3 separate regions of the Homo sapiens genome follow, and all the other regions are reported to be linked to region 3. The links are microRNA targets in miRTarBase. Many come from high-throughput screens and were not tested one by one. Region 3 holds a microRNA gene; each other region holds the end of a gene's coding sequence.
What was found. Region 3 holds the annotated microRNA hsa-miR-30c-2-3p (CUGGGAGAAGGCUGUUUACUCU, at 2,427-2,448, opposite strand). A microRNA usually pairs through its seed, bases 2 to 8, with sites in the 3' UTR of a target mRNA and lowers its output. Matches are read on the target gene's strand: a 7mer-m8 pairs with bases 2 to 8, a 7mer-A1 pairs with bases 2 to 7 and ends in A, and an 8mer does both.

Region 1: the mRNA of ZNF641 is a reported target of hsa-miR-30c-2-3p. Seed matches in the 3' UTR shown: 7mer-m8 at 2,022-2,028.
Region 2: miRTarBase lists MYH11 as a target of hsa-miR-30c-2-3p. Seed matches in the 3' UTR shown: 7mer-A1 at 1,132-1,138.

Annotation. Positions count from the first base shown.
Region 1 is chr12:48,339,547-48,343,546 of GRCh38, forward strand. ZNF641 (zinc finger protein 641) reads right to left here. Exons shown (of 6, transcript NM_001172681.2): 6 at 1-4,000. The coding sequence ends at 3,427. Among named protein-coding and RNA genes, the nearest start is that of ZNF641, 9.4 kb to the right of the region's middle.
Region 2 is chr16:15,700,505-15,704,504 of GRCh38, reverse strand. MYH11 (myosin heavy chain 11) reads left to right here. Exons shown (of 41, transcript NM_002474.3): 41 at 382-1,370. The coding sequence ends at 514. All of the region lies in intron 8 of NDE1 (nudE neurodevelopment protein 1), which reads right to left. Among named protein-coding and RNA genes, the nearest start is that of NDE1, 52 kb to the right of the region's middle.
Region 3 is chr6:71,374,538-71,378,685 of GRCh38, forward strand. MIR30C2 (microRNA 30c-2) reads right to left here and starts at 2,494; the gene lies at 2,423-2,494.

The sequences.
Region 1 (4,000 bases), not on the chromosome of region 3:
GCTCAGGCTCTCTAAGGATCTAAAGGAATGGATTTCACTTTTCTGATATTGCCCAGCCCCACCCACTCCCATTCAGTGCATGCATCCTAATTCAGAGATGGAAAGAACTGGCCTTCTGGCCTTTGTAGGTCTGAGTCAGGACCTGCCCTTGATGGAAATAGGAAACAGTGATTTGATTGCAGGAATGTTGGAAAGGGAGGAATTTTGTCCCAAATTATCACCTCTTTGGTTCTCTGAAGCCATAACATTACTTTGACAAGGGAAAAGTTTTTCCTTCCACAATTAGAACTAAGGCGTAAAGTGTAAATAGCCTGGTGAAAAGCTAACACTTTCGGTTACAGTCTCCTATGCAAGGGATTCTTTGAAAGATACTATGTTGGGGTGGAAAGGGGAGGATACTCAGAATAGGGTGGAGGTACCAGATGGAAAAATGTGACAGGTTCCTGAAGATGATATCCCTGTTTTACATTTTGCCCAAAGAGAACACAGAGATTCTTTTTATTTAAAGGGGACGGGGTGAAACATGAACATTTGAGGCTGATTCCCTGTGGGAAAAATCATTCAAATCTATTCACTCATCTGATGGCTGTTGCTTGTTTTATTTTTTGTCCAAGAGAGGTGGTGTTGGACCGAGGTAGAGAAGACAGTGGTACACCAGAAATAACCCAAAGGATTGCCCCTTCTGTAGAAGGCCCTTAGACTCCATGATGCCTTTCAGCTGGGTGCTATACTTGCACCTAACTCTGGGGGCTTCACTTTCTATCCCTACAATTACTCAAACAGATAAAAGGCTGGATGTTAACATGTAGTTATAAGGGGCGTGATCTAATAGTAAGGAATATCACTTCCCACAAGTCCTTCAAACAAGATTTGTGAGGAGCTGGATTTGTCAGCATGTCAGATCTTTTTGAAAACCAGAGAGTAGAATGTAAGCAATACCCTTGTCGTAATTAAAGACCAGACTCCATCCTTATACCACTGATGCCTCTGGTACCTTAATCCTTAAAATATTTAGTGACCCTTGCCTTCTAATTCTTGACACAAATATATAATGACCATTTTAGATCGGGGAACTCCCTTTCTTTGAAGGCAGTTTAGGGATTCCACAGATGGGCTTTGAACCTGCTAAATGTGTATGGAAAACTGAGTGAATTACAAATGTCTTTTTCTCAAAAGTGCGTTTCTGGTTTCTGTCAGATTCAACAGGTCTGTACCCAAGACAGGTTCTGAACCATTGCTTATGCAGAGCTTTTAGTATTAAAGAGGGAGAGTAAAAGAAATGTCAGAGTCCAGATTTATCACTGAACCCAATACTTTCTTACTCCCTGGGGCATCTCCTAATACTGATCCTAAAATGCTCCTGTTTCTGAGAAGCTAGGGCAAGACCTGCCTTACAAAGACCAGCCATTTTGCCTTATTCATAGGATCATAAGCAAGAGAACTGCATTCCAGGAAGAATGAAGGAAGAAGGAAGGCTGCTCACAGTAGCAGAAGGGAGGCAGGGGCCAAGCTGTTCAAGTCACATAAACTCTAAGAAGCCCAGTCAGCAAAATAAGTCTATCTTCAATTCTAGTTGAGTCCAGGACTCTGAGGAGCTGTGATTCACCCAGTTTTTCCTGCAAAAGGCACAGTCGCTAAACTAAATTGGTGCAATTCACTTCCTCTTGCCTCTCTGGTTCATTCCACCAATTGTGGTTGAGAAACACATCTTAGGGAAGAAACAGTATCTAAGCATTAAAGAGAAAATATCCCACTTTGCTCCTCTTCCTCCCTAACCCCGAACTGCTCTTACATACAAGATAATTTTTAAATTATAAGATTGGTATTAACACAATTATTGATAAAGAGAAACAATGACCAACTCATTAGCTAACGATGCTAGAATACTTATGCAAGCCCTAGAGTTAAGGGTCTTAGTGTGGACACCTTTCCAGAATTGGAAGGAAAACCAACCAGAAAGCTTATTACCCTGCAGCAGCTGAAAAGCTAAGCCACAGCCATTTTCCCTAAAGTTCTGTTTCTGGGAGAATGAGATCTTCAAGAATAACTCTTGCCCCTTGATGAGGCAGTCAAATTCAAACCAGTGATGGCAACAACTTGCAAACACGTAATTCCTGCCCTAATTTTCCAGCACTTAAAACAAAATCCCCACTCAATACAAAGTTTCTATGTGCCTCTTGCCTGAAATCAACAAGAAACAGCTCACCTCCCCAAAGACTCCTCTTTCTCTGCCAGGGCAAAAGCAATCTGCAGCCCAGAGATTCAAACCTAGACATACACATCCACAATTGTCTTAATCTCAGCAGTACTGGGAAAGCTTTGTACTCAACTTAACCTGTCATTTAACCCTTTCCACTAGTTCTCCCTTAACCAGACTGCTTCCTGTCTTGAAACAAAGAAAAAACCCCATATAATCCCCACTACCCTCATCCCCAGAACACAGCCCCTAGAAAACCTAGCTTGTACAGTTTGCACATAGCATGCTGTCTTCAAAGACCCTGCACACAAATACACAGACACATAAAGACAGTCAAGAGGAGAGAGGGGACTGTTCAAGGGGATAAAGTTTTTTTTGTTTTTCTGTTTTTCTGTGTGGGCCAGGGCTATTTGGGGGTATTAGATCATCTCTTAGCCTTGTAGTGTGATCTCTCAGCTGGATATATGTATGTGCAGGATGAAGGGAGTAGGAATAATGGGTAAAAAGGTTATTTTTTCAGCAGGTGAGGGTGAGAGGTGATGTATATACTGCTGATTGGCATAAGGAAGACAGACCCACACATGAACAAGGTCTGGCCCCCCTGGCTTTCATATGGATAAAAAAGGGGGCTCTGGATGCCTGATCACTATCTCTTGTTTCCTTGTTACTCTCTAACCCAGTGTTCACCAGAGTGTTTCATAGTCACCAGTTCTGTGGGATGTAAATAGAAAGGATACTGAGGTCAAATACATTTAGGAAACACTGCCTTAATAGAACCTTCAGTTGGGTCTACTGCAGAAATTTTCAGAGCCTTTAATATTCTAAAATGGCCTTTCTGTCTATATATAGAGAAAATATAATAGTAACAGTATGCAAGAGTGATACTCAAAATGTTTAACAACTGGTATAGCATAGACTCCAACCAATCAGAATGGATTTCAGCCATAAACTGCCAGTACCACTCTCCTCTTGAGAACAGCTCAGGCTGAATATCAGCCCATGTAGGATGCATTGCTTCCCAAAAGTTTTGCCCAAAGAACTCTATTTTTATGTGCTATCTCACAGAACTGGTGAGAAATGCTCTGGCCATTGCTGGGACCTCATCTTTCTAGGGATGGGGTCAGGGCTTATGATTCTGGCCACTGGGGTTCAGGAGAACGGCAGCCCTGGCAGTGACTCCTGGTAGCACCGGCTGATAGACTTGACCATAGCTGTAGTGGAAACAGATTTCAAAAGACAGATGTTCCTCTGTCCCAGCTGTTCCGGGGACTTTGTCCCTGGTGGGTGAGCAGGTGCCTGTCCAGGTGATGTTTTCGGCCAAAGCTCTTCTCACAGCGAGGGCACTGGAAGGGCTTCTCCCCAGTGTGGGTCAGCCAGTGTCTCACAAGGTGGTGCCTTCGGCCAAAGCTCTTCCCACATTCAGTGCACACGTGACACTTTGGCACTGGTGGGGCACGCTGCCGTTTCCTTGTGCCAGGGCTCTCTCCAACCTCTTGGCCTTTGCAGGATTTGCCTTCTGCATGCACTCTCTGGTGGCTGGCCAGATGGGAGTTGCATCGGAAATTCTTACCACACTCAGAGCACCTGCTGGTCTTGTCATGTAGGTGGGTTTTCTGGTGCCTGATGAGGTGATGTCTTCGCCCAAAGGTCTTCTCACACTTGAGGCAGCTGTAGGGTCTCTCCCCAGTGTGTGTTTGTTGATGCCTGGCAAGGTGGGAACCCCATACAAACTGTTTCCCACACTGGGGGCATGTGTGGGGTCTTAACAGGGAATCCATCTCTGTGCTACACAGCAGGTTTGAG
Region 2 (4,000 bases), not on the chromosome of region 3:
ACAAAATCCCCTGCTTGGTTTTTGGCGTTTTTTTCCTATTCTAAATCAAAGACCACAGCAGACCAGAATCCTGTGGCTTCTCAAATGACCAAGCCTGACATATTGAAAAGCAGATCGTCTTGCTTTGAAAAACCTTCTCCACCCACCCCCGCAACCAATTTCAGCTGATTAAATTCAATCACTCATGCCTTAAGACTGGCAATGATTTGTTGACTTCAACTTGAATATCTGCATCTTATTTGTGCCGTGTGTGTTTTCTGCCATAAAAAAAATTTATATTGCAATAGGACTATAGCTACAAGTTTAAAATAGATTTATAAAAAATCTATCCCAACCATGAAGATTTCTTTGCTAAATAATGTGTTTTCTTACAACCCACAGGCGAGGAAACGAGACCTCTTTCGTTCCTTCTAGAAGGTCTGGAGGACGTAGAGTTATTGAAAATGCAGATGGTTCTGAGGAGGAAACGGACACTCGAGACGCAGACTTCAATGGAACCAAGGCCAGTGAATAAGCAACTTTCTACAGTTTTGCACCACGGCAAGAAAACCAAAAACCAAAACAAACAAACAAAAAAAACCCAACAACAACCCAGAACAAAGCAAAACCCAGCAGACTGTACTTAGCATTGTCTAAATCCATTCTCAAATTCCAAATATCACAGACACCCCTCACACAAGGAATATAAAAACCACCACCCTCCAGCCTGGGCAACGTAGTAAAACCTCATCTATACAAGAATTTAAAAATAAGCTGGGCGTGGTGGTACACACCTGTGGTCCCAGCTACTAGGGAGGCTGAGCCAGGAAGAACGCTCCAGCCCAGGACTTCGAGGCTGCAATGAGCTATAATTGCATCATTGCACTCCAGCCTGGGCAACAGAGACCCTGTCTCAACCACCACCACCACCACCACCCCTACTACCCCTGTATTCAAGGTAAAAATTGAAGTTTGTATGATGTAAGAGATGAGAAAAACCCAACAGGAAACACAGACACATCCTCCAGTTCTATCAATGGATTGTGCAGACACTGAGTTTTTAGAAAAACATATCCACGGTAACCGGTCCCTGGCAATTCTGTTTACATGAAATGGGGAGAAAGTCACCGAAATGGGTGCCGCCGGCCCCCACTCCCAATTCATTCCCTAACCTGCAAACCTTTCCAACTTCTCACGTCAGGCCTTTGAGAATTCTTTCCCCCTCTCCTGGTTTCCACACCTCAGACACGCACAGTTCACCAAGTGCCTTCTGTAGTCACATGAATTGAAAAGGAGACGCTGCTCCCACGGAGGGGAGCAGGAATGCTGCACTGTTTACACCCTGACTGTGCTTAAAAACACTTTCACTAATAAATGGTTATAAATCACAATGTCGTTGGCTTTTCTGTTGAGCTGTTTTCTATAGAGGAAAAGGAGTTGGGGAAGGCTGGGTTTTGCTTCATCGTCCCAAAGATTCTCTGAAGTCAGGGTTAACGTCATGAATGCAGAAACTGAGGCCTAGAGAGGTGAAATCAATTGCCTACAACCCCACAGCCAGCCAGAGAGCAGAGCAGAGATGCAAAGTGAGACTGTCTAAGGGGGTTACTGGGCCGCTCAGCAGGGAGGGCAGGGGAGAGAAATAAGGTGATGTGTGGTCTAAGGGCCACTGCCCCCTGCCCTCGAACATGACTGGGAAGAACATCTTGACTCATCAAAACCAGTATCTTAAGAAAAATACAGGATTTCCTTGATTTTTTGAGTTAAAACACAAGGTCTTGTCCAATGAGTCAGCAAACACTTTCCACAAAACGTCAGATGGTGGCTGGGTACAGTGGCTCACACCTGGAATCCCAGCACTTTGGGAGGCTGAGATGGGAAAATCACTTGAGGCCAGGAGTTGGAGGCCAGCCTAGCCGAGAGAGACCCCCGTCTCTATAAAAAAAAGGTGTTTTTTTGTTGTTGTTGTTAGTAAGCCAGGCAGGATAGTGCACACCTGTACTCCCAACCTCTTGGAAGGCTAAGGCAGGAGGATCATGTGAGCCAGGAGTTCCAGGCTGCAGTGAGCTATGATCACGCCACTGCACTGCAGCCTAGGTAACAGTAACACCTTGTCTCTCACACCACCACCACCACCCACCCAGCCAGATAGTATTTTAGCCTTTACAGGCTACATATGGTCTTGCCGAATATTCATCTTCTTTAAAACAACCCTTAAAAACATAATAAATCATTCTTAGAGTAAGGGCCATAAAAACAAGCTGTAGGCCCTGTCCTTCTTTCAGCTTGAGTGTTTTAGACAGACATGCCTGCAAAGGCTCTGTTCAACACAAACGATGCCGTATACCACCAACTCCATGGGATCAGACAGATTTGGGAGACAGGAAACATGGAAACAAAGGACTCCATCTTGTGACCAGATGCTAATATGCCTTGAATGACGCACAAACACATCCCGGATACATTTCTAAAAACCTGGCTTGAATAGAAATTTTCAAAAAGATTTTTTCATATTTTTTAACTTGGTTAAAAAAAGTTTTTCACCACTCTGTGGGAAAACATTAAAGTATAAACATACAAAGCCTCTTTGACCAGAAGCCCAACAAGTTCAACATTCGTTTCTCTTGATTTTATTGATCTTTTAAAAAAATAAAAGGACATCTTCTGTGGATACAGGTTAGGATGTTTCTAGGGTAAGAAACCCACCATCGCAGCGTAATTCTCTGCGGAATTTCAGTAGCACTTGGAAAGTTCTGTTTTCAACCTGAAATTTTTGCTGTTCTTCCAGAAAATAACTTAGTAACAAAATGAAGGCCGTGAAGCTGCAGGCACACTCCAGAAATTAGTGTGTTCTTTTAACTCGTGTCCCAAAGAGACAGCAGTTCCTAACATGCAGTGATGAGTGGACACACCATGGTGCGTTGGAAATCCCACGTTCACGTCTTTGACAAGGAAGCCTCCTACAATGATCTTGTGCTTTAATTTTACTTGATGGTCACCCTGGTTACTTCATTATGCCTTTGAATGAAGTCCTGTTCTTAGTGGCTGCATTACCAAGGCCATCTTGCCCCAAAGACCCCTCAGGGTCCTGAGGCAGAATTCCCCCCACCCCACCAGGGGACTCAGGAAAATGAATGATCGCAGTTTGCCAAAAGAGGTCAGATTTCCCACTGACGCTGGTTGGTCTGGAAAATTACTCTGAAAACTCGAACGCACCTCTAGGAATCTCAATGAGAAGCTAAGAAGCAGGCTACAGTCTCAGAGGTTTATGACACCTTTTTTTTTTTTTTTGGAGACGGAGTCTCACTCTGTTGCCCAGGCTGGAGTACAGTAGCGCAATCTTGGCTCACTGCACCCTCCACCTCCCGGGTCCAAGCAACTCTCCTGCCTCAACATCTGGAGTAGCTGGAATTATAGGCACGCACCACTGCACCCAGCTAATTTTTTGTATTTTTAGTAGAGATGGGGTTTCACCATGTTGGCCAGGCTGGTCTTGAACTCCTGACCTCAGGTAATCCACCCGCCTCGGCCTTCCAAAGTCTTAGGATTACCGGCCTGAGCCACCGCGCCCAGCCTATTCCAGTTTTTAAAAAGGCATGTGACTGTTAAGTTCTCTGTTCTTAGACATGATTTCAGTACACCACAAAGCACTGGGAGATTTTGTTCTGGAAGACGATTCCACCTGGTTGGGAGTTGGGGGGAAGAGCCTCTGAGAGAAGCTCCATCCCACATTTACGGAGACTTGGGACATTAAAAACACCTGTCAAGACCAATCAGGGGCCAGGCACGGTGGCTCAGGCCTGTAATTCCAGCACTCTGGGAGGCTGAGGCGGGAGGATCACTTGAGGCCGGGAGTTCAAGACCAGCATGGCCAACATGGTGAAACCCCGTTTCTCACTAAAAATACAAAATTAGTGGGTGTAGTGGCACACTCCTGTAGTCCCAGCTACTTGGGAAGCTGAGATAAGAGAATCGCTTGAACCTAGGAGGCGGAGGCTGCGGTGAGCCGAAATTGCACCACTAC
Region 3 (4,148 bases):
GCTATACCAGACTCCCTCTCCACCATGACAATGCTTCTGCTCATTCTTCTCATCAAACAAGGGCAATTTTGCCAGAGTTTCAGTGGAATGTCACTAGGCATCCACCTTACTGTCCTGATTTGGCTCATTTGGACTTTTGTTTCCTAATCTTAAAAAAATCTGTCAGAGCACTCATTTTTCTTCAGTTAATAATGTTAAAAAGATGGCACTGATGTGGTGAAATTCCCAAGACCCTGTTCTTTAGGGATGGAATAAATGTCTGGTATCATTGCTTACAAAAGTGTCTTGACCCTGATGGAGCTTACTCTGAGAAATAAAATTTATATTTTTTATTTGTAGCTTTTAACTCAATGTTTCCATGAATATTTTGAAGCCCCCTCATATATATATTTATATATATAAATACATATATAAATATATATAAACATATATAAATATATATAAATATATATAAATATATGTAAATATATAAATATATGTAAATATATATAAATATATATATAAATATATATAAATATATATAAATATATATATAAATATATATAAATATATATAAAAATATATATAAATATATATATAAATATATATAAATATATATAAATATATAAATATATAAATATATATATATAACTTCTCAAGCATGCTTAATAATCCTACTTACTCATGTCACAAAACAGGCTAGTTAACAACTAGAACATATCTAGAAGAATAATACTAAACAAAAACCAAAATTATATAGCTTTATATCAAAGTTTTCCATAGTCAATGAAAGAAATATTCTGGAATATTTAAATACACTTGGTTTTGGAGGACAAGGCAATAAAAAGATTGAATAAAATTAGATATTTTACATAGATACACAAGATGTTTATATTTTGACACATTATATATTTTCTTGTAAGTTCCATGAGAAAAAGGACTTTGTTTCTGTTCTCTGCTATATCCCCTGTGCCTAGAAGTTCACATAGTAGATGCTCAATAAATAATTCTTGAATGATGAATGAATTTCAGCATGTATTTCAATAAGCTTTGAAACACCTACATTCATGACTAAAAGTTAACCATAAATTTAGATCTGGAATATTTGAATGTCCCCCCTTTTAATTTAGGCAGAATAATAAAATGCTATGGCAAAGCATATGCATCATTCTCTGCTGCTTAGAGTTGCTTTTCCCCTTACCCATATTATCTGCCTCTCCTAGCAGAAAGCAAAATTTCAAACATCTATAACAATTATTTCTTTGAGAAGACTGTAGAGCATTGTTTCAAAGAGGGTTTTCTTAAGCCTGTAGGCAAACCTAAAAAGGTAAATGACTCAATCAAGCTGGCACTTCAACAGTGTCTACCACTGCTTCAAGGCCAGCCTGTTCAAATACTTCCCTGAAATCACATGCTAAAGTCATTGTATTTAAACTTTTTTTCTATAAACTCATATGAAACAATTACTCCTATTGTATTAGGCTCTACAGTCAGTGCGGAGGTAAAATTAAAAGCTCCTCTAATACTTCTAAAGTAGTAGAGTGTCTTTTAGTTTAAATGACTGATATATGCTGATATGCCAAGACTAGAGTAATTTTGTTCAGATTTGTTTAATTTTTAATAGAAGCATTAAGTTAATTATTTAACTTCTTAAGGGCTTGTTATATAAAAATATGCCTTATTTAAATATTCTCTTTAACAAGAAGGCTTATTTCATAATAATTTTAAATAAATCAGCAATGGACTCAAATTTCAGGTAAGTTACATTCTAGATTAGATGTTTAATAGACCTTTGATTTAAACGATTTACATGAAAGAGTTTTTCTGGTTAAGGCTGAACTTATGAGTTCGTTCTGTAGATTTTTCTTAAAATTAACTTCTTGCATCCCATCCCTTACCTCTACATTTTCCTTCCTCTCCCGTCCTCCAACAACAATTCTATTTTTTCCTGAAATGTGTAACTATATTCTAGCTTTAAAGAGCAGACCTTATTGTTTGCCATTACAATTCCTAAAGCATGGGGCTCCAAGGTGCCTTTGATCCCTGATAAAATAGCAAGTCCAAGGACACTAGAATTTTTGCTTCAAGAAAAGCAGACTTCAGTGTGGAATGCTCTCAGGTTAAAGGAGAAATGTTTAGCTTAACGTATAGGTAATGTGTTGCTTTTACAGATCAGACTGCAGCAACCCACAAAATGTAGCCTCATACAAGTTAACCAGAACTTTTGTCACTTGGGTATTTGGTAATCTTTTTTTTCTTTTTAAACTAAGTGAAACAGTTCAAATATAACTGATATTATAGATTATCTTACATTTCTTTGGATGACTTAGTCAATTCACCTTTTTTCCTTTTACAGTTGACCTCAGAAACAAACACGGGATAGGATCAATTCTAAGACATAGAAATATTCAAAATCCATTTCTCTTTAGTTGACTTCCAAGGCAGAAAGAGTAAACAGCCTTCTCCCAGCTTTCTTACTTTCCACAGCTGAGAGTGTAGGATGTTTACAGTATCTGTCGCTCAGTGCTCTCTAGGATGGGGTTGGCAGTCAGCAGCACAAGCCTCAGGAAACCCAGTACCATTTGAAGATACCATAATATGTCACAGGAAAAGATCAGAAAAGTATACTTGGGACTAAATTATGGCTCTTTTAGGAGTAGGGTTGGAAGGGTGGGTGGGGAGGCTATATGACACTTACTTAGTGCTGCCTGCTCAGTTCTTGTTTTCTTCCTGTTTTGCACATCCTAAGATATTCCTAAGGTCTCTAGCTTTGAGCTTGCACACTCACGGATTTGGTTAATTTTGGATTTTCAATATTCTATGCTTTCCCAAAAGGGTTTCAAAATATTCGCCAAACTCCTTCCTTAAACAGTACATAATCCCTTTCTGACTGTTGGGAGACATGAAATGCAGCTTCTCACTCTCTGGGCTATACAACTTTGTTTCAGCTCACTCCTGCACAGAACTGAGAATAATGGCTAAACAGAAGACCAACAGTTTAATTACTGAAAATTAGTTACCTTAATGATGGGATACACAGTAATAAATTTAATCAAATGAGCAAAAAGTAAATATGTTAGAATACAACTTTACATGCATAAAAATGGTATATTGCAAATTGCTAATATAATGCTAAAATTATTTTAAAAATTCATATTCGGACAGAAGTGAACCTACAATTAGAGGCATACACATGAATGGAGTCAGTTGCTTCCTAAAGTTATTTTCTAAGAATGACTTATTCAAATAGTTCTTGGACTTCATTTGCTAAACTGGTCTAAGGTACACAAAATACTTGGGCGAAGAAGAAAGTCATCATTACTATACATCTCAGAACAAACCTACCTGATAAGAGACTACACTGTAAACCCAGGTGGCATATAATTCCAAACTGTTACAGGATCTTACTCATTTCATTCATTCATTCATTCATTCAACAAACAATTGTGACTGCCTGCCATATATCAGCAATGTTTTAAATTCTAGGTGATGAGAAATGAAGGGTATCATCCCTACCTTCGAGAAGGACACAGCTTAATTTGCAAGACAGACACATACACCATTACTATAAGTGTTATGATGGGTCAAAAGACACTTCTGAGTTGGCTAATAGCCAGGCTGAGTCTTGAAGCCTGAATAAAATTAGCTAGGTGAAGATGGTGCTAATGGGAATTTGGAAGGGGTGGGCAGTGAAGAAGATAGTGTAGCTTAAAGTGTACCAGAAAGAACAGTCATCCAATAGAGAAAGAAAGACAAAGGTAATGTATGCTGAGGCCTTTAAGAATTCAGCAGAGGTGGAGTCAAAGATGCATGTGGGTGAAGGGTAAGGGGAGAGACACAAGGGAAAGATGGGAGTCCTTATGTGCCAGGTTAAAGGGTTTGGGCATTATCTCCAAACGATGGGTACGAGTGAAAGATAGTAAGCAGGCAAGTGGGATGACCATGTCAGTACTTTAGAGAATTTACTCTAGCTTTAAGGTGGCAGGTAAGGAAAACAGGAAAAGAATCACTGCAGTAGTGTAAGGGAGAGCATGGGAGCCTTAATTAGGGAAGAGGCAGTAAGAACACAGAGAAAATGAATATGAGAAATTATAAAGACAAGAAGAACAGCAGAATTCAGTGAGTGAGTAGCTGAGGGGAGAGGCACTGTGGAGATGGAGAAGTCATGG